Regions from separate parts of the Homo sapiens genome. Here region 1 is linked to region 2. The links come from fine-mapping of genetic effects on gene expression. Tissue or cell type: whole blood. Region 2 holds a variant in brackets; the other region holds the start of a gene. All regions are shown on one strand. Distances are between the middles of the regions.

What was found. PIP is the estimated chance that this variant, and not a neighbour inherited with it, causes the effect.
Region 1: it holds the start of ZNF717, and the variant in region 2 is fine-mapped to the expression of ZNF717 in whole blood (TOPMed, PIP 0.98).

Annotation. Positions count from the first base shown.
Region 1 is chr3:75,779,257-75,794,575 of GRCh38, forward strand. ZNF717 (zinc finger protein 717) reads right to left here and starts at 6,293. Exons shown (of 5, transcript NM_001290208.3): 1 at 6,128-6,293; 2 at 4,050-4,108. The coding sequence starts at 4,106. RefSeq lists an enhancer at 6,406-6,555 and a silencer at 13,713-13,913.
Region 2 is chr3:75,606,256-75,621,574 of GRCh38, forward strand. It overlaps the pseudogene UNC93B3. Among named protein-coding and RNA genes, the nearest start is that of MIR1324, 17 kb to the right of the region's middle. RefSeq lists an enhancer at 13,522-14,129. The variant C/T (reference allele first, on the strand shown) is at 9,481.

The DNA of each region.
Region 1 (15,319 bases), 170 kb after region 2:
ATGTGCTAAAACCGGAACCCAAAACAATGGGAGTGATCTGCTAAAACCAGAAACCTAAAACAATGGGAGTGACGTGCTAAAACTGGAACCCAAAACAATGGGAGTGATGTGCTAAACCAGAAACCCAAAACAATGGGAGTGATGTGCTAAAACCGGAACCCAAAACAATGGGAGTGATGTGCTAAAACCGGAACCCAAAACAAAGGGAGTGATGTGCTAAACTAGAAACCCAAAACAATGGGAGTGACGTGCAAAAACCAGAACCCAAAACAATGGGAGTGTCCTGCTAAACCAGAAACCCAAAACAACGGGAGTGACGTGCTAAAACCGCAACCCAAAACACTGGGAGAGATGTGCTAAACAGGAACCCAAAACAATGGGAGTGACGTGCTAAAACCAGAACCCAAAACAATGGGAGAGTCGTGCTAAACCAGGATCCAAAGCAATGGGAGTGACGTGCTAAAACCGGAACCCAAAACCATGGGAGTGTCGTGCTAAACCAGAAACCCAAAACAATGGGAGTGATGTGCTAAAACCGGAACCCAAAACCATGGGAGTGTCGTGCTAAACCAGAAACCCAAAACAATGGGAGTGATGTGCTAAAACCGGAACCCAAAACAATGGGAGTGTCCTGCTAAACCAGAAACCCAAAACAACGGGAGTGATGTGCTAAAACTGGAACCCAAAACAATGGGAGAGATGTGCTAAACAGGAACCCAAAACAATGGGAGTGACTTGCTAAAACCAGAACCCAAAACAATGGGAGAGACGTGCTAAACCAGAACCCAAAGCAATGGGAGTGACGTGCTAAGCCAGAAACCCAAAACAATGGGAGTGACGTGCTAAGCCAGAAACCCAAAACAATGGGAGTGACGTGCTAAAACTGGAACCCAAAACAATGGAGCTGACGTGCTAAAACTGGAACCCAAAACAATGGGAGTGACGTGCTAAAACCGGAACCCAAAACAATGGGAGTGACGTGCTAAACCCAGAAACCCAAAAAATGGGAGTCACGTGCTAAAACTGGAACCCAAAACAATGGGAGTGATGTGCTAAACCGGAAACCTAAAACAATGGTAACTAACAGTAGTGCTAAGGCCCTACATTTTGGTCACACTCTCAACTAAGTGAGAACTTGACTAAAAAGGAGGAATTATTTTTTTTCTGAGATAGAGTCTTGCTCTGTCCCCCAGAGTGGAGTGCAGTGGCAAGATCTTGGCTCATTGCAAGTTCCGCCTCCCGGGTTCAGGCCATTCTGCCTCAGCCTCCCAAGTAGCTGGGACTACAGGTGCCCACCACCACGCTCGGCTAATTTTTGTATTTTTAGTAGAGACGGGGTTTCACCGTATTAGCCAGGATGGTCTCAATCTCCTGACCTTGTGATCCACCCACCTCGGCCTCCCAAAGTGCTGGGATTACAGGTGTGAGCCACCACGCCCAGCCAAAAGGAGGAATTTTTTAAGCAAAATTATGCGAGGCCATTGTTTTAAACTAAGCTCATGCAATAGGTCCCAACAGACCAAACCAAACCAAAATGGAGTTACTCATGCTAAATGTAACATAATCAAACTAAGACTTTAAGGAAACACATAAATCCTAGAACAAACCAGGTTTTGTTTTTCTCCTGTAAACAGGACGTTCCAGCATAAGAAGGTACCTTCTACTCAAGTCCTTGGTCCACCTTTTCAAAACTCACTGGTCTATTTCCCAGTGGGTTTCTAAAGCAAGTAAGTACATTTGCAATGGTAATAGTGACACCAGTGACTGAAGTTTTGGCCAATCTCTCAAAATTGAGAAAATAACCAAAGGGAAGGAATTGTTAAAGTGAACTAAGTATGGCCTGAGAAGGACTCCATAATTCTATATATGAGTCCTTGTGGATGAACTGCAACCTACCTTAATAGGTAGACAAGAATGAAAACCTAACTTGAGAGTATGCACCTGGAACAACAGCTGCGTCTTGGCCAATCCCAGTGGCCAAACTTCAACCACTCAGGCACTGCCAAGTGTTCAAACTGTGTTCAAACAAGGCAAATGCTGAGTTGTTTCTGTACCTCACTTCTGATTTCGGTATGCCACTTCCCTTTTGTCTATAAATCTTCTTCCACCAAATGACTGTGCTGGAGTCTCTGTGAATCTGCTGTGTTTCTGGGGACTCTCCGATTCATGAATCGTTTATTGCTCAACTAAACTCCTTTAAAGTTTTTCTTTTAACAGAACTAACACAGAAGAATTTCCAGATCATGAACAGACATTTTGTAATACCCAAAGTTGTGTTAACATGAATAGACTCGTCCTTAGATACCTAACCTTGTTTTTAATATGAATAGACTCTCCCTTAGCTGAGAAAACCGGACAAACTCCATTTGGCTCCTTCATTTATAAGACATCAAGGGCTCCTTACCCACTCCCTTTCCTCAAGGACTTTAACTTGTGCAAGCTGACTTTCAACATATCAAAGACTGCAATTAACTGATAAAGCGCTGAGGCAAGTGATGTCTGCAGTTCCCAGCAATTTACTCAGAGATAGTATCATAAAGCCCGCACATTTGTCCGGCAGCTAACGCCCAGAGCCCCCTCACCTATCACTTTGTGGTGAATTTAAAGCCCCTGCACCTGGAACAGTTTGTTTTCCTGTAACCATCTGTCGTTTTAACTTTTTTGTCTGTTTTTTCTTCTGTAAGGTTGCTGCAGCTAGAATCCCCCCTCCCCTCTCTAAACCAAAGTATAAAAGAAAAGCTAGCCCCTTATCCGGGGCCGAGAGAATTTCGTGCGTTAGCCATCTCTCAGTCGCTGGCTAATAAAGGACTCCTGAACTCGTCTCAAAGTGTGGCGTTTCTCTCTAACTCGCTCGGATACGACAGTTTCAACTATGGTAGAAGACTCGAGTAAGGCAATCACAGTCCCCCTAAATTTGACTATTATTTAGGTTAATGGTGAGTTTAGAAGAAATAAGTTAGGACTACACAGAGTGGGCTAAAGTGCAAATAAACACTGGAAGTATTTCCCAGAAAATATAACTTTGAACAGGCTGCTGCACACCCTGCATGTAGAGATAAACTAAGATAAAGGTGTGGAGAGTTATTTAAGGACCTGTGGTTAACTCAGTTCTCAAGATGTTCCAGGTTTCATCCATGAATCAAGGAGCACCTCCCAAAAGCTGTTTGGGACCACACTCTTTGAGCAAGGAGCATACCTTACAATGGAAGCTGTGCTTTGGCAGCAGATGCCCATTTCCACTGCACAACAGGCCGTGCTTTAGTGGAAGATGACTGTTTCCACTGCACAACACTACAAGTGTTTACTGCCAGGCTGGTGTGAAATATGTTCCACCACAGCAAGGAGCATACCTTATGATGGAAGCTGTGCTTTAGCGGCAGATGACCATTTCCACTGCACAACACACTGTGCTTTAGCGGCAGATGACCATTTCCACTACACAACACACTATGCTTTAGCAGCAGATGACCATTTCCACTGCACAACATGCCGTGCTTTAGCGGACGATGACCGTTTCCACTGCACAACACACCGTGCTTTAGCGGCAGATGACCATTTCCACTGCACAACACGCCGTGCTTTAGCGGATGACGACCGTTTCCACTGCACAACATGCCGTGCTTTAGCAGAAGATGACCGTTTCCACTGCACAACACTACAAGTATTTACTGCCAGGCTGGTGTGAAATATGTTCCAGCACATAACCTATGTCACCACCGAAGGTGGTGGTTCAGACTTGGTGCACACAAGCTTTCCTGTCCCACAAGAACACAGCATGCTCTCTTCGCGGGTTCCATTCCAATCACGTAACAACCATGACTGACTTTTTTGTCACTGCATCAGAAAGATCAGAGGAAAATTTGCACTCAACTTAGACAACTCTAAGCTCTTACAACCTGTCTATATCTACAGGTCAGCTTTATCTTATTTATGTATATTTCCTTCAACCTGAGTTTTACTTATTTCCACTTTTCTTTTTTAATTCACAGACACCCATAAACTCAGAAAATACAGTGTAAAACAAAGTGAAGAACAAATAAACAACTCACCAGAGATTTATTCTTTTCTTGTAGCTCTTGGAAACAGCCAGAGAACACTGGAAACATAGCTGAGAGAGAAGGCAAATGACGTGAATTAAGGAGAGAACTGGTGTGGTGTGGTCCCAGATTCTTCTGCCCAACACTCTAGACACATTACCTGGAAAAGCCCTCCTCCCTCCTGAAAAAGAAAAACTTCCCCATGGGAGAAGAGTCCTTCAAGCCTCATTAGGGGCAGCAAAGACTCAAGATAAGATACATCTACAAGTACATTAATTGGTAGACATTAGATGCACAATTTATTTTGAATAAAAATATGTATTACCTACTAATTTAGCAACAATATTACCTAAAGATACAATCTAATAATTTAATACAAAGAAACATTATAAGTTCACTAAAATAAATGTTATAGAAATATACTGGGCTGTATTAACTATTTTCCTATTAATATGTGGATTCCACAAATAACTTCATATGAGTGTTCCCATGACAGTACATCTTGCTTTTCTATACCTGAACATCATGGAAAGTGCATCTTGCAACCCAGCAATTTTGGCCTACAATTACTTTTTTTTAAATGTACATAATATGTATTTCCTGCAGTACACCATTCTACTCATGTTTCCCAATAACACCTTTCCCTGTATCCAAGCCCTCATATTATGCTCTGACAATAAATTGGGCTTTTCCATCTGACTTGTCCAGTGAATGGACAATGGAAAATGTGATGCAAATATCCATTGGTTCTTGCCTTTTTGGACACAGTCATATTGTGAGGAGGTCTGGAGCTACCCTGGTGGAGACACAGGGCCTAGCCAAGAGTCACCACAAACCGCCAGATTGTGAAGGAAACTATCTTAAACCAACCAGGCTCAGTCAACCCACCATGTGACCAAGGCCTCTTTTGTGATCCAGGCAACATAAATATATCAACTACCCAGCTGAACCCACCACACCAAAATGCAGATCCACAGAACTTCAAACAAATAAAATGGTGGTTGTTTTTTATAAGCCAGTAAGGTTTAATTAGTTCCTTAAACAGCAAGTATTAACTGTTACACCTAAGTGAACAGAATTCAATATGTTTTTAACAAAATTACGTAGGGGGAGAAAGTCTTAAATTACAAATCAAATACAATCGATAGAACTTCACAATCTAATGCTAAAGCTAAATTTGGTGATGGACTAGGTTTAATATATCTCAAACGCTGGAAACAACGAGGAAAGGTTGAAGGAATGGGACTGTGTTTGGAGAGTATTTTAATCTTCTCAGGTATGACAGGTCACTCCTGTACCCCAGACCACACTTTCAGGCCCCTTCAAATAAGGAATATTTCCTAGGTCCTTGCCTGTTCTTCTCAGCCGAATTCACCTCAACCTTCTGAAAGTTCGTCCAAACCTACCACTGTCACCTAGTCTTTGCAAATCTTGTGCATTCTAGGGAGTAGAATTAATATTTCCCGAGCGAGGAAAACTGGGATCTTCACCTGTGACCTTTTATCCTCCTCTGAAGCACCAGTGGGAGGTTAGACCAGAGGGCTGTTCTTTCAAGTGCGCTTCTTATTCATAGGGAACCCTCCCTTTCAAACCTTATAACACACGGTTAAGACTGAAGTACCCTTAAGGCTGAAGACCATCATCCAGTACCCCATCTCCCTCGCGGCATCAGTGAGTTCTTCCCTGGAAACTAGGTCTCGTATAAACTTCTGTAAACGCAACCCAGGAGGACTAGGCAGGTCACACAGTGAAGGAGGGAACCAGAAACTTCACTTGCTAAAGAGACACCGGGAAACCCAACTAATACAAACGCCCAGTTTAAGACTCGAGGCGCACGCGTTTCGCACTACTCCTCTGGGAATGGGGAACGTCTCCCGAGAACTGTGTGTTCGCACTGGGACAGATGGGCAAACTGAGCGTCATGCGGGTTGGTAACCGGCTCCCTCAGCGGCAGGACAGGAGCGCGGCCTGCAGACTCCGGGCCCAGGGCCACCGGCCTCGCCTACCCGCTCCTGCGCCTCTAGAACCCGCTTCACTGCCGGGACCCCACGCCTGTCCTCCCAGCCCCCGCCAGGGTCCGCGGCCTGCACCTGCACTTCAGGCCCTGCCCGCCCGCGATGCGCCCACGCGTCTGCTCCCACAACTGGGGAACACTGGTCCGGCCCCCCGGGATCCCCCGGGCCCACGGGTTCCTCTTCGCCCTCGCACCGACCCGCAGGGACATAGAACCAAGCCCCAGGCTGGCCCAGCTACAAGACCGCCTCTGGGTGCCGCACTTCCGGAGGAAAATGGCGGAGTGGGCGGGGCGGCGCATGCGCAGAGAGAAAAGCTGGTTCCCAAGGTCCTTGATGGTAACATCATTGGAAGGTGACACTACATTTCCCATGAGGCTCTGCGGTCCCCGGTTAGGAACCCAAGCCGGACATTCTGTTTTGCCCAGCAGTGAGTCCAGTTACCCAGAGACCCGGACTTAATGGATCAGGACTGGTCCCTACCCAGGTGACACAGATGTGGCATTCTGGTTCTTTATTAAATCCTGGTTTCACAGCCTGGCACATTGTGAAAATAATGGAGAAATTTCAATAGAGGCCAATTGGTCTATGCTATTAATGAGTAACTTTTTTTTTTTTTTTTTTTTTGAGACGGAGTCTCACTCTGTCACCCAGGCTGGAGAGCAATGGTGCGATCTCGGCTCACTGCAACCTCCGCTTCCCGGGTTCAAGCGATTCTCCTGCCTCAGCCTCCTGAGTAGCTGGGATTACAGGTGCGCGCCACCACACTCACCTAATTTTTGTATTTTTAGTAGAGACGGGGTTTCACCATGTTGGTCAGGCTGGTCTCGAACTCTTGACCTCGTGATCCGCCCTCCTCGGCCTCCCAAAGTGCTGGGATTACAGGCGTGAGCCACTGCGCCCAGCCCTCAAGTCTATTTTTTATAAATGCATTCGAAAGCATGAAAAAAATCATGTCTCTATTTTACTTTAAAATTTTAAAAACACAACTAATGAATATGGTAATTCTCTTCCAATCCGTTATCTTTTCTCTCACTAAACTAATTTATAAGCCTTCAATTTACACAGTTACAAAAAATGCTCTAGTGCATATACTGGGATAAAATAACAGGGTCATAAGACAGGTGCACTCCATAATCTTTGTGACAACTTACACTTCCAGTGTCTGATAAATATTTGCCCATAAACTCCCACGTTTCATCCATCCACCAATCAATCAAATCTAGCTATCTTTATTTATTTATTGTGAGAAAGACCTGAACTTTGCCTTTCCTTCCCTGATTTCTGCCACAAACTAGGCAAGGATTTCTGCCTAGGGGTTTCTCAGAGCTCCGGCCACCACCGAGGTTCCTAACAGGGAAACGCAAGCTTGAATGCTCAGGGTTGATGTGGGAGTGCGTGTGAAACGGGGTTGGGGTGAAAGGGCAGTGAAGTTTGTAGGTGGGCAGATGAGGGTGTGAAGGGCTTTCAGGTAAGAGGCACGCAGGAGACTGGGAGAGGCAGCGAAAGCACCTCACGCCTCAGATCACCAGAAGACGCTTCCACCAGTGCCGTGACAGTTTGCCAATGCCACGGCAGCACGGGAAGTCCCCACCCCTTGCCATGGAAACAGCTGGAAGTTACTGCCCATTTCTAGCTATTTCTGAATAACCCGCCCCTTAATTAGCATGCCATTAAAAGTGAATTATAAAAATGACTGCAAGCCACCCCCAGGCTGCTACTCTGGGAGCACAACCCACGGAGGGCTCCCTGCCCTGCAGGAGTGGACGCAGGGCTGTAACACCGCCAGTGCCTCCGTAGAGCTGCTTTCTTCCACCACAGGCTTGCTTTTGGATTCCTTCCTGAGCGACGCCAAGAACCTGCCCTTCCTCAGTGTGACTCTTGCCTAAAACCTATCCCTGGTTTTCTCTTTTCCTAAGCATGCCCTGACTTGTTCTTTCATCTCCTCGGATCTTGCAATTGCTCCTCAGTGACTCTATTCTGCAGATCCAGAAAACTCAACCTTAATCTTCCCAGAGCCCTGTTGTCTCCAATATCGGAATCTCTAGCCTTGCTTTCTCAGACGCCTAGATTACAGGCCTCTCTCTTGAACACCTATTGGTATGGTATCTGGGGATCCTTTAAATACACGATGATTGGCAGGGGTTACATAGCGGAAATCAGTGCCTGACAATTTGCCTTCCAGGATATGGACTGTCATTCCCTCTCTTGGTGGGCCTCAGTCTCTTATCCATAAAAGTAGAGATTGTAATACTCATTTGAATTGCAGATACCTCAACCTGAACCCACCTAATATAACGTAAAAGCCAAGACTGCAACCCCTTTCCTCACCACGTGAAGGTGAAGTCCTCAGAGCCAAGGAGAGAAGGCTCAGGGATGATACCTGGGTGTCTCCGACGCTAACCATGTATTGCAGTTTTTAGTGTTCAAGTTTAAGCTTCCCCAGCTTTAATTCTATTGTAACAAGATTTATTTTTGTAATTCCATTTTTGGATTCTTGATTTCTTGGTAAAGAAATACAGTTATTTTTGTATATCAATCTTATATAGTGTTACATTCTTAAATTTGTTCATGAGTCCTAATACTTTTTAGTAAATTTCTTACGATTTTCTAAATGCAAGATCATGTCATCTGTACATAAAGATAACTGTACTTCTTCCTTTCCAATCTAGATGCCGTTTATTTATTTACGTTGCCAAGTTGTCCCAGCTACCACTGTTATCAAGTAAAAGGGTCTCACTGCCCAAAGCACTAGAAGCCGGTACCACGACACTGAGTTTTCGAGAAAAGAAAAAGTTTAAAGTCAAACCAAAACCTATGGGGTACAGGCCGGGCGCAGTGGCTCATGCCTGTAATCCCAGCACTTTGGGAGGCTGAGGCGGGCGGATCGCGAGGTCAGGAGATCGAGACCATCCTGGCTAACAGAGTGAAACCCCGTCTCTACTAAAAATACAAAAAACAAAAATTAACCGTGCGTGATGGCGGGCGCCTTTGGTCCCAGCTACTCAGGAGGCTGAGGCGGGAGAATGGCGTGAACCCGGGAGGCGGAGCTTGCAGTGAGCCGAGATCGCGTCACTGCACTCCAGCCTGGGAAACAGAGCGATACTCCGTCTCAAAAAAAAAAAAAAAAAACCTATGGGATACAGTAAAAACACTACTACAGTACTAAGAGGTAAATTTATAGCAAAAAGCACCTGCATCAAAAAAAGTAGAAAAGCTTCAAATAAACAACCTAATAATGCATCTTAAATAATTGGAAAAGCAAGAGCAAACCAAAACCAAAATTAGTAGAAGGAAACATAGCAAAGATCAGAGCAGAAATAAATGAAATTGAAATTTAAAAATATAAAATATCAATGAAATGAAAAGTTAATATTTTTTAAAAGACCAACAAAATCAACAAACATTTAACCAGACTAAGAAAAAAGAGAGAAGACTCAAATACATAAAACCAGAGATTAAAAAGGAGATACTACAACTGATACTGCGGAAATTCAAAGAATCATTAGAAACTATTATGACTGACTATATTCCAATAAATTGAAAAACCTGGAAGAAATGGCCAGGCACCGTGGCTCATGCCTGTAATCCCACCACTTTGGGAGGCCAAGGAAGGTGATCACCTGAGGTCAGGAGTTCAAGACCAGCCTGGCCAACATGGTGAAACCCCATCTCTACTAAAAATACAAAAATTAGCCAGGCATGGTGTCATGCACCTGTACTCCCAGCTACTCCAGAGGCTGAGGCAGGAAAATCACTTGAACCTGGGAGGCAGAGGTTGCAGTGACCTGAGATTGTACCACGCTCCAGCCTGGGTGACAGAGCAAGACTCCATCTCAAAAAAAAGAAAACAAAAAAACAACCAAACAACAAACCTAGAAGAAATGGATAAATGAAATTGAAGCCATAATAAAACATCTCCTAGTAAAGAAAAGCCTGGATCCAATGGCTTCACTGGCTTCACTGATTAATTTTACCAAACATTGAAGGCAGAATTACTATCAATCCTACTTAAACTATTCCAAAAAACAGAGAAGGCTGTAGTATTTCCAAACTCATCCTATGAAAAAGACCATTCATCATGTCTAAGTGGGATTTATCCCGAGGATGCCAACATGGTTCAACATATGCAAATCAATCAATGTGACACATCATATCAACAGAATGAAGGACAAAAACCATATGATAATTTCAATTGATGCTGAAAAGCATTTAATAAAATCCAACATCCCTGTGATAAAAAGAAACCCTCAAAAAAAAACTAGATATAGAAGGAACATACCACAACACAATAAAAACCATATGCAACAGACCCACAGCCAGTATCATCCTGAACAGGGAAAAGCTGAAAGCCTTTCTTCTAAGATCTGGAACAAGACAAGAATGTCCACTTCCAACACACAGTACTGGAAGTCCTAGCTAGAGCAATTCAGACAAGAGAAAAACAATAAAAGGGATCCAAATTGGAAAGAAGTAAAATTATTACTGTTTTCTTGTTTGCAGATGATTTGATCTTATATTTGGAAAAACCTAAGGACTCCACCAAAAAACTATTAGAACTGATCAACAAATTCAGAGTCACAGGATACAAAATCAAACTACAAGAGTCGGTAGCATTTCTAAATGACAAAAATGAACAATCTAAAGAAGAAAATCAAGAATGTAATCCCATTTACAATAGCTACAAATAAAATAAAATATCTGGGAACAAACATAACAGAATAAGTGAAAGATCTCTACAATGAAAACTATAAAACACTGATGCAAAAAAATTAAAGAGGACACCAAAAAAAATGGAAAGATTGTCCATGTTCATTGATTGGAAGAGTAAATATTGTTAAAATACCTATACTTCACAAAGCAATCTACAGATTCAATGCAATCCCTATTGAAATACCAATAACACTCTTTACAGAAATAGAAAAAAAATCCTAAAATTTATATGAAACCATAAAAGACCCAGAATACCGAAAGCCATCCTGAGCAAAAAGAACAAAACTGGAAGAATCACATCACCTGACTTTAAATTATACTACAGAGCAATTGTAAACAAAACAGCATGGTACTGGCATAAAACAGACACATAGACCAATGGAACAGAATAGAGAACCCAGAAATAAATCCATACATTTACAATTAACTCATTTTCAATGAAGGTGCCAAGAATATACATGGGGGAGAGGACAGTCTCTTCAACAAATTGTGCTGGGAAAACTAGATATTCATTGGCAGAATTTTTTTTTTTTTTTTTTTTTTTTTGAGATGGAGTCTAGCTCTGTTGCTCAGGCTGGAGTGCAGTGGCGTGATCTGGGCTCACTGCAAGCTCCACCTCCTGGGTTCACACCATTCTCCTCCTCAGCCTCCCAAGTAGCTGGGAGTACAGGCGCCTGCCACCATGCCTGGCTAAATTTTTTTTTTTTGTATTTTTAGTAGAGACGGAGTTTCACCGTGTTAGCCAGGATGGTCTCAATCTCCTGCCCTCATGATCCGCCCACCTCGGCCTCCCAAAGTCATTGGCAGAATAATTAAACTAGAACCCTCTCTTGCACTATATACAAAAATCAAATCCAAATGGGTTAAAGACTTAAATCAAAGACACGAAACTGCTGAAAGAAAACATTAGGGAAACTCTCCAGGAAATTGGTCTGGGCACAGATTTCTTGAGTAATACTCCAAAAGCTCAGGCAACCAAAGCAAAAATGAACAAGTGGTATCACATCAAGTTCAAAAGTTTCTCCATAGTAAAGAAAACAATGGGCAAAGTGAAAAGACAATCCACAGAATGGAAGAAAATATTTGCAAACTATATATCTGACAAGGGATTAATAACCAGAATATATAAGGAGCTCAAACAACTCATAAGAAAAAAACTAACAATCCAATTATTTAAATGGGCAAAAGATCTGAACAGACATTTCTCAAAAGAAGGCACACAGGTCAGGCACAGTGGCTCACACCTGTAATTCCAGCACTTTGGGGAGCCAAGACAGGTGGACCACTTGAGCCCAGGAGTTCAAGACCAAACTGAACAACATAGCAAATAATTTTAAAAACTACCTGGGCATGGTGATGCATGCCTGTGGTCCCAGCTACTCAGGAGGCTGAGGTGGGAGGATTGCTTGAACCCTGGCAGTCAACACTACATTAAGCCATGATCATACCACTGCACTCCAGCCTGGGTGACAGACTGAGACCCTGTCTCAAAAAATGAGCAAAAACAAAAAAGAAGATATATAAATGTCAAATAGGGATATGAAAAGATGCTCAATATCATTGATCATCAGAGAAATTGAAATCAAAACTACAATAAGATATCATCTTACCCCATTAAAATGGCTTTTATGCAAAAGACAGGCAATAAATGCTTGCAAGAACGTGGGGAAAAGGGAACACTCTTACTCTGTTGGTGGGAATGTAAATTAGTACATTCACTATGGAGAACAATACGGAGGTCCCTCAAAAAATTAAAAATAGAACTATCATATGATCCAGCAATCCCACTGCTGGGTATATACCCAAGAGAGGGAAAATTAGTATATCAAAGAGATATCTGCATTCCCATATTTATTTCAGCATTATTCATAATAGCCAAGATTTGGAAGCAACCTAAGTGTGCATCAACAAATGAAGGGATAAAGAAAATGTGGTGCATATACACAATGGAGTACTCTTCGGCCATGAAAAAGAATAAGATTCTGTCATTTGCAACAACATGGATGGAACTAAAGGATATTATGTTAAGTACAATGAGCCAGGCACAGAAAGACAGACTTTGCACGTTCTCACTCATTTGTGGGAGCTAAAAATTAAAACAATTGAACTCATCAAGATAGAGAGTAGACTGAGAGCTTCCAGAGGCTGGGAAGAGTAGCGGTGTTACGGGATCTTTGGAGTGTTACTTTTCTGGACAGAAACCTCTATGGCTGGTGGCACCTTTGCCTGCGTTTTGCTGGGCCCCACCCACTCAGCCTGGCAGGCTGTGCTCAGCTCATGCTACCAGGTTGGATCCCACGCCTGCCAAGGGAGACTGCATGGAGTGGCAAGGGGTGTGTGAGTGAGCATGGGGTCTGGCCACTGTGCAGTCAGACTTGCTGGCTGCTGCAGTGGGGCAGGTGGCTCCAGGTGCCAACACGGGCACCAGCTCTCTACAAGGCTGTGGCTGGACCACGGGCACCGCAAGCAGCTTCCACAGCTGGCACACTGGGAACACAGTGGCACCCAGAAGCTTGGAGATACCAGGAACCACAGGGCCCTAAAGAGGGAATCACAGCCCTGGCTCGGGGAGCTCCAGGTCTGGGCTCCCCAAAGGGCCACAGCTCTTCTTTCCTTCTCTTTGCCCACAATGTGGCAAGCAAGGGGCATGTCTCAGCCCTGCTTGTGTTACAGCTCTTTCAGCCTCTTCCCTAGATTTGCCATAATTAATTCCCATATCGTCTTATTTTTTTACATGTGTTTCAACTTCAGAAGATGTATGGATCTAAACACAACATGATGTGTTAGCTAGCTTCCATATGAGTTTCTCCCTGTTTCACCACTATGTAGCCTAAAGTTATTCCGTCATCCACGACTATCCTGGCTAAAGAGTCTGAAGATCTTTATTTGGTAGCTACGGCTTCAGCTAGTTCATTTGCTAAGTTACCTAGAGTGGTTGACAGATTTCTAATTATACGTTCATGAGAGTTACTCCCCACCATTGCAAGAGACTTCTGCCAAACATAGGCCAAAATTCATCTCCTTGGTTTGCAGGTACGGTTTGTCTAATCCTGGAAAATAATTTCGATGAACTACTTCAGTGTTCAGAAACATTGGAGTTATAAATAGAAAGAGGAAGAGCCACATAACCTAATAGACAATTACCTCTCATATGCCAGTGGTCAACACATTCATAAGCCCATGGGTGCTTGATCCAGGGACAACACAGGGTCCTTGACGGATTCTGAAATTTAAGGCTTTGGTTTACTGGTAACAGAGACAGGTTAAAGTACATGTCTTCAGTCTTGAGTAGAGTGTAATCAGTCTGATTTCTTTTTTTTTTTTTTTAATGAGACAAACATCAGGTAAAGACCTTGACAAGAAGGAAGAGAAATCCCGAGATTCTATAATCATAATAATCGAATTGTAATTGCTAGTTTAAGTAGTCCTTCAAAAATACATCTCATTCCTGACAGGAAAAAACAAGTTTTTTAAAATATGTTATATCTGGGTTAACTAGGGAACACTTGGAGCCAGGAAATAATTCAGGATTCAGCCCAAATTATAGGCAAATAATAAAAACTCGGAAACAATGATCAGGGCTGGAATCTAATAGCATATGTCATAGTTTTCTTTTGGAACATAAATTTTCTCTCTCTAGTCCATCATTTTATCAAAGACAAATCATAGTAGGACAAATTTGTGTGCAAAATAAGTTTTAGTCTTATCGTACCTGGTCTGATTATTTGCATAAAGTGCAGTAAGAATATTTATTGACCATATAGGCTTCTTAAAATTGGCTTTGTTGGAACTTTTTAATAAGGAATCTTAGACTTTTAAAAGCCTTGAGGCTAGCCAAGTCAAAGATTTGCATCAGACTGTGTCTGTAATACTTTTTTTTAACCTACTTTTTTTTTTATTATACTTTAAGTTCTGGGGTACACGTGCAGAACGTGCAGGTTTGTTACATAGGTATACATGTGCTGTGGTGGTTTGCTGCACCCATCAACCCATCACCTATATTATGTATTTGTCCTAATGCTATCCCTCCCCCCGCCCCCACCCCCCAACATGCCCCAGTGTGTGATGTTCCCCTCCATGTGTCCATGTGTTCTCGTTGTTCAACTCCCACTTATGAGTGAGAACACGTGGTGTTTTGTTTTCTGTTCTTGTGTTAGTTTGCTGAGAATGATGGTTTCCAGCTTCATCCATGTCCCTACAAAGGACATGAACTCATCCTTTTTTATGGCTGCATAGTATTCCATGGTGTATATGTGCCACATTTTCTTTATCCAGTCTATAATTGATGGGCATTTGGGTTGGTTCCAAGTCTTTGTTATTGTGAACAGTCCTGCAATAAACGCAGGTGTGCATGTGTCTTTATGGTAGAATGATTTATAATCCTTTGGGTATATAACCAGTAATGGGATTGCTGGGCCAAATGGTATTTCTAGTTCTAGATCCTTGAGGAATAGCCACACTGTCTTCCACAATGGTTGAACTAAGTTACACTCCCACCAACTGTGTAAAAGCATTCCTATTTCTCCACACCCTCTCCAGTATCTGTTGTTTCCTGAC
Region 2 (15,319 bases):
TCTGATAGGAAAGAAAGCGTCTTTCAGGTCCAAGCAGGTGAACCAGCTGTCCTCAGCTGGCAGCAACCCCAACAATGTGGACGGGTTAGGTACTATTGGAAGTAAAGTCAGTGTAGCTTGATTAAGCAAGCGCAAATCCTGTCCTGGACTGTAGTCCTTGGTCCGTGGCTTGGGAACAGGCAGGAGGGGAGTGTTCCATGGAGACTGACAAGGAACAATAATTCCAAAAGTTCTTAGGTGTTTGAGAGGGGCCTGGATACCTTGAAGAGCTTCTCTGGGGACCGGGTCCTGTTTTTGCCTAAGCGGCTGGGCCCCAGTCTTAATTGGCCAATCCCAGAGGGTTGTCTTCTGCCTGTACTCTGGGCCACCACTCAGCCAGAGCTGGTCTTCTCTCTTGGCCCGGCTCAGTTAAGAAAAGTCTTCATTCCTCCTCTCAGGGGACCATAAGTGTCATAATGACTGCCGTTCTGGGTAACTTTAGCAGCAAAGAGCCATGCTCTGTCAAAGAGATAGTGGCTCTCAGCTTGCTGAGCAAGTCCCTTCCCAAAAAGGTCAAGGGACAGTCAGGCATGTACCAAAACTGATGAATGACTTTAAGTCCTCCTACAGTACAAGTCCGAGGAAAGCAGAAAGCTTGCTTTGCTGAACCCCCCGTGCCTCCGATGACGTCAATAGTCTTTTTGGATAAGGGGGTGACCGGGGCGGTTACTAGCAAATGTTCAGCACCGCTATCTACAAGAAAGTCAATGTCTCTACCTCCGACTGTCATTCTGACCAGAGGCTCTTTGGGGACGCTTGAGCCCGGTCTCCCTCAGTCCAAGAACCCTTCTGCCAGGTTGAGCAGGGCCCCTTCCTCCTTGTCCGGAGCCTCCAGCTCTGAGTCACCTTGTTTTCTTTTGAGCTCAGGGCATTTGTTCTTCTACTGTCCTATTTCTTTACCATGAGCACACTGGTTATGCTGCAAACTCTGACAGCCAAGCTGAGTTTCTTTCCCAGGGCCCCCCTTCCCTTGCCTCTTTGGGGGGGCCCCTCTGATTGCTGCAGCTAACAAACAGGTCGGTGTTTCGCTGGGCCTGACCTCCATTCTCTTTGCCATTTTCCTTAGGGCTTACTGCATCCCTGTTTACAAACACCTGCTTAGCTATTTCTCATCAATGTGATGTATTCATCCCTGCAAGTCCAGCCTGCTTCTGCAGTTTTCTTCTAACCTCTTCCGCGCTTTGACGGACTAAAGCCATGTGAATCATGCGCTGATTTTCAGGGTTATCGGGATCAATGGGGAGTATACATACCATAAGCCTCACACAGTCTCTGGTAGAATTGTGCTGGACTTTCTTCTTTTCCCTGAATGACCTCAGAGACCTTGTTAACGTTTGTGGCCTTCCGAGCTCCCCTCTTGAATCCTTCCAAGAGAGCTTCCCTGTCTCGGTTTAGCCTTTGCATATCCTCTCTTTCATGTGGGTCCAACTGGAAGTGGGTTCCTGGTGACTGGGTCCTTCCACACTCTTGGGGGTTTTGATAATCAGCTGGTGCATGTTCCTCTAACCACTTAGTTGCTACGTGGAGCCCTCTCCGCCTTTCACCTTTCATCTCTCTTAAAGAGGAATATGAGCAACCGGTGGCGATCAGCCCAGGTGGGGTTGTGGGTCTGGAAAACAGTTTGGAGCAAATCAATTAGGGCTTGCGGCTTTTCTCTCTAGGACTGGGTATTGTTTTCCCAGTTGAGAAGGTCGGCCGAGGTGAAGGGCTGGTACATAAAAACATGCTTCTCCACCACGTGACCATCCTCCTCTATCACAGTATACCGCTGCTCTCTCAGGGGCATTTGGATCCCCGTTTTGGGTCATAAACGAGCTGCCGAGGGAGGGGTGGAATGGCGCAATGTGACTTACCGCAATTAATAATCTCAATTATTAATTGATACTAATAATTATCAATATTAATAACTGATCATATAATTCTTAAAATCAATACCGATAATAATGAAAATTCCTATTACAGTGTTATACTCACAATAACAATAAATGATTAATATTAATGATTAATGACGCCTGGTATTAAAGAGTGATATTGATCTTATTCATTAGAAAACTGTCATATTAGCTCCTAATAATTAATATTAATATTAATAATCAGAACACTATTAGCAATGATTTATTATATTAATATTTATATTGGTAATACATATTCATGTAAATAATAAATGAGGAAGAATTAATATGAATATTATCTCTAATACCTCAGTGGGTGTACCCCCACCTGTGATATTGTTCCTAATGTCCAGGGAGGGAGAGAGCATGATATGACATTGAATATCGCAGTAGGTGTACACCCACCCGGTGATATTGATCCGAATATCATCTCCAGGGGATGGCATATGACGTTACTCCCAAGATAGCAGTGGGTGTGCATCCACCCGGTGATATTCCTCCTAATATTCCCGGAAGAAGAGAATGCTATTACTCCCAATATCTCAGGAAGTATACACCCCTTCTGTGACATTGTTCCTAATATCCGGAGGGGGAGAGGGTGATATTACTCGCAATATCGCAGGCTGTGTACACCCATCCTCTGATATTGTTCCTAGCAGCCAGGAAGGGAGAGGACGATATGACTCCCCATACAGCAGGAGGTGTACACCCATCCTGGGATATTATTCCTAATATCCATGGAGAGAAGAAGCTGATATGACTCCCAAAATCGCAGGGGTCGTACATCCAGTCTGTGATATTGTTCTTAATATTCAAAGGTGGAGAGGTTGCTATTACTCCCAATATCACAGAAAGTGTACAAACCCGTGTACTATTGTTGCTATTATCCAGAAGAAGAGAAGATGATATCACCCGCCCATCGCAGGAGGTGTACACTCACTCTGTGATATTTTTTCCAATGTGCAGGGCAGGGGAGGATAATATTCTTCTTAATAGCACAGGGTGTGTACAGCCCCACTGTGATATGGTCCTTAATATTCCAAGGCGGAGAGGATGATCTTACTCCCAATACCGCAGAAAGTGTACACAACCCCAGTGATATGGTTCCCATGATCCAAGAGAGAAGAGGATGATGTTACTTTCAATATCGCACGAGGTGGACACACCCCCAGTGATATTGTTCCTAATTTCAACGTGGGAGGGATGATACTACACGGAATGCCCCTGGGGGTAAAAACACTCCTGTGATATTGTTCTTAATATCAAGGGGAAAGACGATGCTATTACTCCAAAGAATGCAGAGAATGTGCACCCGTCTGTGACATAGTTGGTAATTTCCAGAGGCGGAGAAGATATTATTGACAATAAGGTGAACACGCTGTGTGACCACCGTGGATCGTCATATCCAGGGGGGGAGATGGGGGTGATATGACTCCCCGCATCGCGGGGGGCGCCCGCCCCCCTGCGATGTGGATCATCATATCCAGGGGGGGAGAGGGGGGTGATATGACTCCCCTCATCGCGGTGGGCGCCCGCCCCCCTGCGACGTGAATCGTCATATCCAGAGGGGGGTGATATGACTCCCCGCATCGCGGGGGCCTCACCCCATTGCGATGGGGGTCCTAAGAGCCAGGGGGAGATAGGGGCTGGCTCTTACTCCCCGTACCGCCGGGGGGGGGGGCCTCACCGCCCTGCGACGGGGCTCCTTAGAGCCAGGGAGGGGGAGGGGCTGGCTCTTACTCCCGGTATCGCAGGAGGTGTGTACAACCCCTGCGATATTGGGAGTAATATCATCCTCTCCCCCTGAATATAAGAAACAATATCACAGGAGCATGTACACCCCCTGCGATATTGGAAGTAACATCATTTTCTCCCCCTAGGGATATTCGGAACAATATCACAGTGGGTGTGTACAGCCCCTGCGACATTGCCGCTAGTATCTCCCTCTCCCTCCCAGGATAGAAGGAAGACTGTCACAAGGGGTTGTATACCCCGTGCGATATTGGCTGTAATATCTTCCTCTCCCCCGCTGCCCTTTAGGAGCAATGTCACACAAGGGGTGTACATCCCCTGCTATATTGGGAGTGATATCATCCTCTCCGTCCCTGGATATTAGGAAAAATATCCCTAGGGAGTGGACACCTCCTGCAATATTCAGACTAATATCATCCTCTTGCCGCCTGGATGTTAGGATCAATATCACAGGGGTGGTTTGCACCCCCGCCGAAATTGGAAGAAATATCATCCTCTTCACCTTTGGATTTTAGGGACAGTATCACGGGGGAGGTCTCCGCCCCCTGCGATATTGGGAGTCATATCATCCGCTCCCACCCAGGATATTAGGAACAAGATGACCGAAGGGATGTACACCCACTGCGATATCTTCCATAATGTCATCCTCTACCCCCTGGCTATTAGGAGTAACATCATAGAGGGGTGTACACTTTCTGTGGTATTGGGAGTCATATCCTCTCACCTACGGATATCGGGAACAGTTTTATTAATTATTAATATTAATAAATATAATAATTAATAGTAATCATCGATATTAATAACTACAGTGGAGACAGTAAAATTTAATGCTGATTAAAAATATTAATGATTATGATTAATAATTAATAACCATATCACTATTAATAACAAAATAATGATATCAGTAATTAGTCTTACTTAAATCCATCATAAGTGATGTTGGTAATAAAACAATGATTAATATTAATACTAATAACTAATATTATTTGAAATGACATTAATAGTAAGAATTAATTTTAATCATGCATAACCATGTTTTTAAAATAATGATTAATGACTAATAACGTTACACTATTAATTAATATTACCATTGATAATCATTAATGAGACTGATGTTTAATAATTCAGAATGTTCTTACTCCTAATACCGCAGGGGTTGTACACCTACCTGTGATATTGTTCCTAATATCCAGGGATGGAGAGCATGATATTAGTTTTAATATCACAGTAGGTGTACACTCACCCTGTGACACTGATCCCAATATCCAGCGGGTGGAGTATGACATGACTGCCAACACAGCAATGAATGTACAGCCACCCGGTGATATTGCTCCTAATATTCACGGAAGAAGCGTATGATATTACTCCCAATATCGCAGGGAGTGTACACCTCTTCTGTGATATTGTTCCTAATAACCCGACGGGGAGAGGATGATAATAATTCCAGCATGGCAGGCTGTGTTTACCCACCCTGTGATATTGTTATTAATACCCTGAAAGGGAGGGGATATTACTCCCAATAATAGATAGATATTACTCCTCATAATAGAGCAGGAGTTGTACACCCACCCTGTGATATTCTTCCTAATATTCAGAGGCTGAGAGGTTGATATTACTCCCAATATCGCAGGCATTGTACACCCCCTTGTGAGATGGTCCCTTCATAATATTCCAAGGCGGAGGTGGTGATGTGACTACTTGTATCGCAGAAAGTGTACACCCCCCAGGGATATTGTTCCCATGATCCTGGAGGGAAGAGGATGATATTACTTTAAATATCACAGAAGGTGGACACGCCCCCACTGATATTGTCTCTAATTGCAACATGGTAGAGGAGGATATGACACGCAATATCGCAGGGAGTAGACACACCCGTGTGATACTGTTCTTAATATTCAGGGAGGAAGAGGATGATATTACTCCCAATACAGATGGGTGTACACCCGTCTGTGAAGTAGTTCATAATTTCCAGAGGGAAGATGATATTACTCACAATATGGTAAACAGGCTGTGAGTCCACCGCGGATCCTAAAAACCAGGGGGGGAAGAGGGGCTGGCTCTTACTCCCCGCATAGCGGGGTGAGCCTCACCCCCCTGCGATGGGGATCATGAGAGACGGGGGGGGAGGGGGGCTGGCTTTCACTCCCTGCATCGCGGGGGGTGCCTCACCCCCCTGCGATGGGGGTCCTAAGAGCCGGGGTGGGGGGTAGAGGGGCTGGCTCTCACTCCCCGCATCGCGGGGGGTGTGTACAACCCCTGCGATATTGGGAGTAATATCATCCTCTCTCCCTGAACATAAGAAACAATATCACAGGAGCTTGTACACCCCCTGCGATGTTGGAAGTAACATCATTTTCTCCCCCTCCGGATTTTCGGAACAATATCACAGTGGGTGTGTACAGCCCCTGAGACATTGCCGCTAGTATCTTCCTCTCCCTCCCAGGATAGAAGGAACAATGTCACAAGAGGGTGTACACCCCCTGCGATATTGGGGGTGATATCTTCCTCTCCCCCGCTGCCTATTAAGAACAATGTCACAGAAGGGTGTACACCCCCTGCTATATTGGGAGTGACATCATCCTCTCCGTCCCTGGATATTAGGAACTATATCCCTAGGGAGTGTACATCTCCTTCAATATTCAGACTAACATCATCCTCACACCCCCTGGATTTGAGGATCAATATCACAGGGGTGTTGTGCACCCCCGGCGAAACTGGAAGAAATATCATCCTCTCCACCTTTGGATTTTAGGGACAGTATCACGGGGGAGGTCTCCGCCCACTGCGATTTTGGGAGTCGTAACATCCGCTCCCACCCAGGATATTAGGAACAAGATGACCGAAGGGATGTACACCCACTGCGATATTTTCCATAATGTCATCCTCTACCCCCTGGCTATTAGGAGTAACATCATAGAGGGGTGTACATTTTCTGCGATATTGGGAGTCATATCCTCTCCCCTACGGATATCGGGAACAGTTTTATTAATTATTAATATTAATAAATAGAATAACAATTAATAGTAATCATCGATATTAATAACTACAGTGGAGACAGTAAAACTTAATGCGGATTAAAAATATTAATGATTACAATTAATAATTAATAGCAATATCACTATTAATAATAAAATAACGATATCAGTAATTAGTGTTATTTAATCCATTGTAAGTGATGTTGGTAATAAGACAATGATTAACATTAATATTAATAACAAATATTATTAAAAATGACATGAATAGTAAGAATTAATTTTAATCATGCGTAACCATATATTTAAAATAATCATTAATGACTAATAACGTTATACTATTAATTAATATTACCATTGATAATCATTAATGAGACTGATGTTTAATAATTCATAATGTTATTACTCCTAATACCGCAGGGGGTGTACACCTACCTGTGATATTGTTCCTAATATCCAGGGATGGAGAGCATGATATTAGTTTTAATATCTCAGCAGGTGCACACTCACCCTGTGACACTGATCCTAATATCCAGCGGGTGGAGTATGACATGACTGCCAACATAGCAATGAATGTACAGCCACTCGGTGATATTGCTCCTAATATTCACGGAAGAAGCATATGATATTACTCCCAATATCGGAGGGAGTGCACACCTCTTCTGTGATATTGTTCCTAATAACCCTACGGGGAGAGGATGATAATAATTCCAGCATCACAGGCTGTGTTCACCCACCCTGTGATATTGTTATTAATATCCTGAAAGGGAGGGGATGATATTACTCCCCATAATAGAGCAGGAGTTGTACACCCACCCTGTGATATTCTTCCTAATATTCAGAGGCCGAGAGGTTGATATTACTCCCAATATCGCAGGCAGTGTACACCCCCTTGTGAGATGGTCCTTCATAATATTCCAAGGCGGAGGGGGTGATATGACTACATATATCGCAGAAAGTGTACACCCCCCAGGCATATTGTTCCCATGATCCTGGAGGGAAGAGGATGATATTACTTTAAATATCACAGAAGGTGGACACGCCCCCACTGATACTGTCTCTAATTGCCACGTGGGAGAGGAGGATATGACACCCAATATCGCAGGGAGTAGAAACACCCGTGTGGTACTGTTCTTAATATTCAGGGAGGAAGAGGATGATATTACTCCCAATACAGACGGGTGTACACCCATCTGTGAAATAGTTCATAATTTCCAGAGGGGAGATGATATTACTCACAATATGGTAAACAGGCTGTGAGTCCACCTCGGATCCTAAAAACCAGCGGGGGAGAGGGGCTGGCTCTTACTCCCCTCATTGAGGGGGGTGCCTCATGCCCCTGTGATGGGGGTCCTTAGAGCCAGTGGGGGAGAGGGGCTGTTCCCTACGTTGGGGCACTGAGGTCCCTGTTTTCTTTTAAGCTGCCATCGGGGACCACTCTCGGCATCCACAGGCCCCCTTGTATGTGGCCCCATGTCCACTTGCCCTACTCCAAGCCTGCAGAAGAGCACCTCTCTGCCATGTCCCTTTCTTTTAAAAGACTTGCCTGACTGGTTCAGGTCCACTTAGGTAGCATCCCATGTTATTAGCTCAAAAGTACTGTAGCCCATCACATTCACTCACAGGAGGGCATTAGCGGAGTGTGGACACCAGGCAGTGAGAATCTCTCAGGCCAGTTTAGTATTAAGTTGGTCAGCCAGGATCGGTGGCTCACGCCTGTAATCCCAGCACTTTGGGAGTCCAAGGTGGGCAGATCACCTGAGGCCAGGAGTTCGAGACCAGCCTGGCCAACATGGTGAAACCGTCTCTACTAAAAATACAAAAATTAGCCAGGCGTGATGGTAGGTGCCTGTAATCTCAGCTACTTGGAAGCCTGAGGCAGGAGAATCGCTTGAACCTGGGAGGTGGAGGTTGCAGTGAACCGAGATCGTGCCATTGCACTCCAGCCTGGGCCATACAGCAAGTCTCAAAAATAAATAAATGCAAAGGCTGCTGAGCGCAGTGACTCATGCTTATAATCCTGTCATTTTAGGAGGCCGAGGCAGGAAGACTGCTTAAGGCCAGGAGTTTCAGCCTAGCATGGACAACACAGTGCAACTCTATCTCTAAGTAAAATAAAATAAAATAAAATAAAATAAAATAAAATAAAATAAAATAAAATAAAATAAAATAAAATAAAATAAAATAAGTAAAATAAGAATTCAGTTGGTTAAAAGAAACTCACTAGGTCCAGCCCACAATCAAGGTATGGAAATTACACAAAATTGTGAAGAGTCAAGGGTGGGAGATCGCTGGCAGCCCCTTATAGAAGCTGCCTATCTCACATACCTGTTGGACAGCTTCTCTCTCCTAGCTGCGGGTATTTGAAGCGGGTGTCGAATCCTGCTCTTTTTTATGTCTGTTGCCTTTTCTCGCGGTGATGTGTTTCCTGTGTGTTCTGTAATTTTGGATCGTGAGCTGAGCTTCAGAGGGGCTTTATGTGGGGAATCCTGGGTGGCCAGGTTTGAGGGAGCCACCTAGAGAGGTTTTCTCTTTGGCTTTTCCAGGGGCCCCAGGGTACCACTAAGCCAAGGCAACTTTTTGTTTGAGACGGAGTTTCACTCTTGTTGCCCAGGCTGGAGTGCAGTGGCACAATCTCAGCTCACTGCAACCTCTGCCTCCCAGGTTCAAGCTATTCTCCTGCCTCAGCCTCCTGAGTACCTGGGATTACAGGCACACAAGGTATGGCTAATTTTTTGTATTTTTAGTAGAGAGGGGGGTTTCACCATGTTGGCCAGGCTGGTCTCGAACTCCTGACCTCAGGTGATTCACCTGCCTCAGCCTCC[C/T]GAAGTGCCGGGATTACAGGCGTGAGCCACCACCCCTGGCCCAAAGCAACTTTTTAGTGCTAATATCTCAACTCTGGCATTCCTAGACCACACAGGTAGCATGACTTCATTGTAGGAGTTCCACATTTATATAAGAGAGGCCTGAAAACGCAACGATCTCATGGGAAACTTGTTCAACACCTAAAGCTCAAATTTTCTCACCTTTCTCTGTTCCCCTGGGTGGAAATTTTTCTGTCCCTTTCTCTAAAGGTGTTGCATTTCTGTGGCCCCAACTTCATCATGCTTGACTGTAACCCTGACCCCCTGCCTTCTAAGGGCTTCCAAGGCTCAACCCAGCCCTGCCCTCAGGCAGTTGCAGCACCAGCTCCTCTGTCCCCACCTTGGTTCTCACTTCCCTCTTCACTTCTGGCTTTAGGGGACTTAACTTATTTTCTGAAGAACTCAGCTATATATTTATTTTATTTTATTTTATTTTATTTTATTTTATTTATATATTTTTTGAGATGGAGTTTCACTCTTTTGCCCAGGCTGGAGTGCAATGGCGTGATCTTGGCTCACTGCAACTTCTGCCTTCTGGGTTCAAGCGATTCTCCTGCTTCAGCCTCCTAAGCAGCTGAGATTACAAGCGCCTGCCACCACTCCTGGCTGATTTTTGTATTTTTCGTAGAGATGGGGTTTCACCATTGGCCAGGCTGGTCTCAAACTCCTGGCCTCAGGTGATCCACCCGCCTCAGCCTCCCAAAGTGCTGGAATTATAGGTGTGAGCCACCTTGCCCGGCCTCAGCTCTATAGTTAAAATGACATTTGTTTCTTACCCAGCATTTCTAGGTGTTTTGAAGAGGGAGATTTCTCAGGTTATCTAACCTGCTACTGAGAACTTAAAGATAGGGAAAATCTTGGACTGGAGATTCTTGTAATCACATAATTGAAAAATCCCAGCTGGGCATGATGGCTCACGTCTGTAATCCCAGCACTTTGGGAGGCCAAGGCAGGGGGATCACCTGAGGTCAGGAGTTTGAGACCAGCTTGGCCAATATGGTGAAACTTTGTCTCTAATAAAAATACAAAAAAATTAGCCTGGCATGGTGGTGGGCGCCTGTATTCCCCGCTACTCGGGAGGCTGAGGTAGGAGAATCACTTGAACCCAGGAGATGGAGGTTGCAGTGAGCTGAGATCACGCCATTGCACTCCAGCTTGGGCAACAAGAGTGAAACTCCGTTGCAAAAAAAAAGAAAAAAGAAAAGAAAAAGAAAAATCCCCACAGTGCGGATCGACAAAATCACAGAGTTGCTTTGGGAGCGAGGGTGGCAATCAGACACGGAGGCCATGACACAACCTGTTCGTCCACTCAGGGGTCCAGAACCTCCACCCAGTCACCTTATCCGGGGGTGATGGGGACAGGGGAGGTGCCACATACGCCACTGTCATCCCTTACAATGAGCTCTTCTCCTGCTCGAAAAGAGCCAGCCTGCTGAGCTTGCTGCCAGGGCCCGTCGCACTGCCTGCGCTGTTTCCCGTCGCACTGCCTGCTCTGTGTTTCCCGTTGCACAGCCTGTGATGTGTGTTTCCCGTCGCACAGCCTGTGATATGTGTTTCCCATCATGTGTGCACGAGTGTTGTCATGTAGTGTCTGTCACAGGTGTTACCCATCACGTGTGTTTGCATGTTACATGTGTGTGGCCTATCAGGTGTACATATGTGTTGTCTGGCACGTGTCAGCATCTGGGCATCCTCCGTGTGCCAGGAGCAGCCAGGTGGCCTGTGAGGCCTTCTCATGGGAAATGCCCAGATAGGAAGAGCACAGCCAGGAGCCAAGCCCCTGAGTGGCCACTCCCTGTGCCTGGATCACCTTCAAGTCTGCTCAACACCAGAGCCTCTGTTCCTTGGCACCATGGACATTAGAATTGACTCGGAACTGGGAAGAGCTGTAGGCCCACAATCCAGGCACCCGCTCCCCGTTCGCCCAGCATCCCAGGGGCCCACACCCTTCCAAATATCACCTTGCCCTCCATTCAGAGGTGAATCATCCGAGCGTCAGGTTGCCCAGCTCCGACTGGTTTTGCTGGAGCCTGCCTGGAGGATGTCGCCAGCCACCTCCAGAGAACACTCAGTCTACAGATGCGGAAGGGGAACTGGAAGCACACAGCGCTGGCCTTCACCCAGCTTATGGTGGCACCTCGGGACCGCTTCTGAGTCTGCTTGTCATTGAAGGTCAGCGTGAGGCAGGCAGCGTTCCCTCCCAGATTTAGAAAATGTCAAGTCTCCCGCCGCACCCTTTTGTGTTTCTTACAGGCCCTGGGGAGCTTGCAGCCGCCACACTAAGGGCTCCAACATGTTACCTCACACACTCAACAGAGAAGGAACCTGTGGCTCAGATGGGAGACTCCCTGTCCAAGGCCACAGAGTCTGGCCCCAGGGCCCACTAGAGGCTTCAAGAACCAAACTCACATGAGGGCAGAGAGGAGAGATGGGGTCAGTTTAGGGCTGGGAGAATCCATAGAGCGATGCTGAGGCAGGCATGGAGCCTGGAGGTACAGACGAGGGCCTCTCCAAAGTCAGGGGTAGAGAGGCTGTGGGGAGTGAGGAATGGTGTGGGCCAGCCCCGGGCGTGCTGGGGTGCAGCTGGGGGCTCCATGGCCCTCCCACGGCCCCCACTTGTCCTCACCCAATCGTTCAGAGCTCTTCATGGCGGGGGTGTCCCTCTCCTCTGGCCACAAGAGGAGCGGGTGGAGGAACGGCACCTTCAGGCCTTGTAGGGGGTCTGCCCCTCCACCAGCCTGTTTCTCGTGGGCATCGCAGCTGAGGCTGTAGCCGGGAAAGGGTAGTAACCGAGCATAACTGGCCTCCAGCCACCACTTCCAAGGCCCCTACTGGGCACAGGGTGACCCCACCGTGGCTCGGAAGTGGACCCTGTCCGACGCGGGGGTGGTCGCTGGAGGGCCGAGGATGCCTACACAGGCCCCTGGAGGGTGTGCCTCCGGAGTCTGTCGCGCCCTCAGGACCCATGGGGGACCAGCAACGCGGTCACACCCTCCTCTGTCTCTGCCAGCCGCTCCGTCGCTTCCTTCTCCTGGCTGGGATTGGCAAAGGCAGGCAGCTATGGGGGGCGGGGCCTCAGGAGGGAGGACAGGCTGGTGGACGGGGCCTACGGACACCTCGCCCCGCCCCCAGTGGTGCTCCGCACTCCCCACACCCCGCGGCCCCCCTAGGTCAGGGCCTCCCACCACCGCGCCCAGAGGCCGGGCCAGCCAGGCGTGCACCCCAGGGGCGCTCCGTCCCCCGCGGCCTGGGACTCCCCAGTCAGGACAGTACAAAATCTCTTTATTGCTCATTTTCTGTAAAAAATCGTGGCTCTCGGCGGACCCTGGGAATAGGAGGTGCAAAGCGCGCTCACACGCAGCCCAGGTCCGCGGCCGAGAGCTGGGGGGATCTGGAGCGGGGCCAGGTAGCAAGAAGACCCTGACCCTGCTCTGGGGCTGGGGCGCGTGCTAGGGGCCCGCGGGGTTTCAGCTGTATTTTCGAACCCCTGTGCTTGGCCGAGGGGTTCCCAAGGCTCCACTCCGCCTTGGAGGGGGCTGCGGAAGCCCAGAGGTGACCCAGGCTCTGGGAGGGGCGTCCCCAACGTGGGGGAGGGGAGACAGGGGCCTTTGAAGACAGCGCGGGACTCGGAGGGGGTCCCCCCGACCTAAGACGTGGTAAACTGAGGCCGGCGAGGAGGGAGGCTGAGTCCGGGGACCAGGCGGCCCCTCACTGCTCCTCCGGCCCATCGCCCCCTGCGCCTGTTCGTACGGGCAGGGCCGGCGGCCGAGTCCAGCGGGCTCGGGGCCAGGCCTGGGCCCTGCGGGCGGAGCCTCCGCCTCCGCCTCCTCGCCGTCCCCAAGATCGCCCTCCGCGTCGCTCTCGTCCGAGTTGTCCTCCTCCAAGTAGCGGTAACCGCGCACCTTGTGCTGGGGCCGCGGGATGCGGGGCTGCCGCGGGGCCACGCCCCGCCGCAGCTTCTGCTCCATCCGCAGGTAGGAGACCGTGGCCGCCACCAGCGTCACCAGCAGCAACGCCAGCTTAGCCTGGGCGTAAGGAGAGGGATGCCAGGGACCCGCGGCCGCCTCGCCCCACACCTTTCCCGCCTATGCCCCTCGCTGAGATAGGCCCTTCCCTCCTCCGGGAGCCTCCCGGGCCACGCGGCCCTCAACTTCTCCAGCCCCTCCACCCACTCTTCCTGGACCGCCTCCTGCAGGCGAGGCTCACATCCAGCACTGTCCCTTACAGTCACCATGCCCCTGGCGACCTCAGTGTCCCACGCTGTAAGGAGACAATGCAAATCCCTTTGCCTCATAGGGTGCATGTGCCAGTGTTGATAAAGTGCTGGCCACAGGCCCTGCCTTCCCAGGGCTCACAACACTGAGTCCCTGACACACCCGTGGGCTGTAGTGATGCTTTTCATGGGGTTTTGACTATAACCCGCAGTCAGGAATGATTTTACAACATAGCTCAGTACATACACACATATCTGTATGCATACTTCCGGCTATTTTCTTTTTTCGAGACACGGTCGCTCCGTTTCCCCACCGCTCCCCCTCCCTCCCTCCCCCCACCCACTGCTGGAGCGCAGTGGCATGCTCACTTCAGCCTCAATCTTTGAGGCTCAAGCCATCCTCCCACCTCAGTCTCCCAAGTAGCTGGAACTACAGGCACGCGCCACCACTCCCAGCTAATTTTTAAATTTTTTGTAGAGGCAGGGTCTCTTATGTTGCCCAGGCTGGTCTTGAACTCCTGGCCTCAAGCAATCCTCCTGCGTCAGCCTCCCAAAGTGTTGGGATTACAGGCATGAGCCACCATGCCCTGCCCACTCACTGCTTTTCTTTTTTCTTTTTTTCTTTTTTTTGGGAGACAGGGTCTCGCTCTGTCCTCCAGGCTGAAGTGCAGTGGCGCGATCTTGGCTCACTGCAACCTCCATCTCTCAGGTTCAAGCCATTCTCGTGCCTCAGCCTCCAGAGTAGCTGGGATCACAGGGACGCGCCACCATGCCCAGCTAATTTTTGTGTTTTTAGTAGAGACAGGGTTTCACAGCCTGTTACCCAGGCTGGTCTCGAACTCCAGACCTCAGGTGATACCCCCACCTCAGTGTCTCAAAATGCTGGGATTACAGGAATGAGCCACTGTTCCCGGCCCACTCCCTGCTATTTTTAGTTCTATTTTTATTTTTATTTTTATTTTTATTTGAGACGGAGTTTCACTCTTGTTGCTTAGGCTGGATGGAGTGCCAAGGCCCCGTCTCGGCTAACTGCAACCTCCGCCTCCCAGTTCAAGCAATTCTCCTGCCTCAGCCTCCCGAGTAGCTGTGATTACAGGCGCCTGCCACCACGCCCGGCTAATTTTTGTATTTTTAGTAGAGATGAGGTTTCACCATGTAGGTCAGGCTGGTCTCAAACTCCCTACCTCAGACAATCCACTCGCCTCGGCCTCCCAAAGTGCTGGGATTACAGGCGGGAGCCACCGCGCCCGGCCTTTAGTTCTATTTTTCAAAAATGTTTAGCAACTGGGACTTGCTAGACTGAGCCACCATCTTTTGGGAGCAGCGCCTGAGGAGCCTGCTCCCCTTCAGGCCATAAAGGGAGACAGACCCATCATCTGGAGAACAGGGTACCAAACAGCCCACAGGATGGCTGTGATGCACCCACAAATCCCCTCAGAGATGGGCAAACTGAGACTGGCTGGAGGTGGGCCAGTAAGTGGGTTGCTGAGTTGAGGGCCACCCAGTGGGCTGCAGGAATGAGGCTTGGCCCAGAGACTGGCTTGGGAAGGGGTGGCGTTTAGGAAGCTGTGAAGCCAGGGCAGGGGC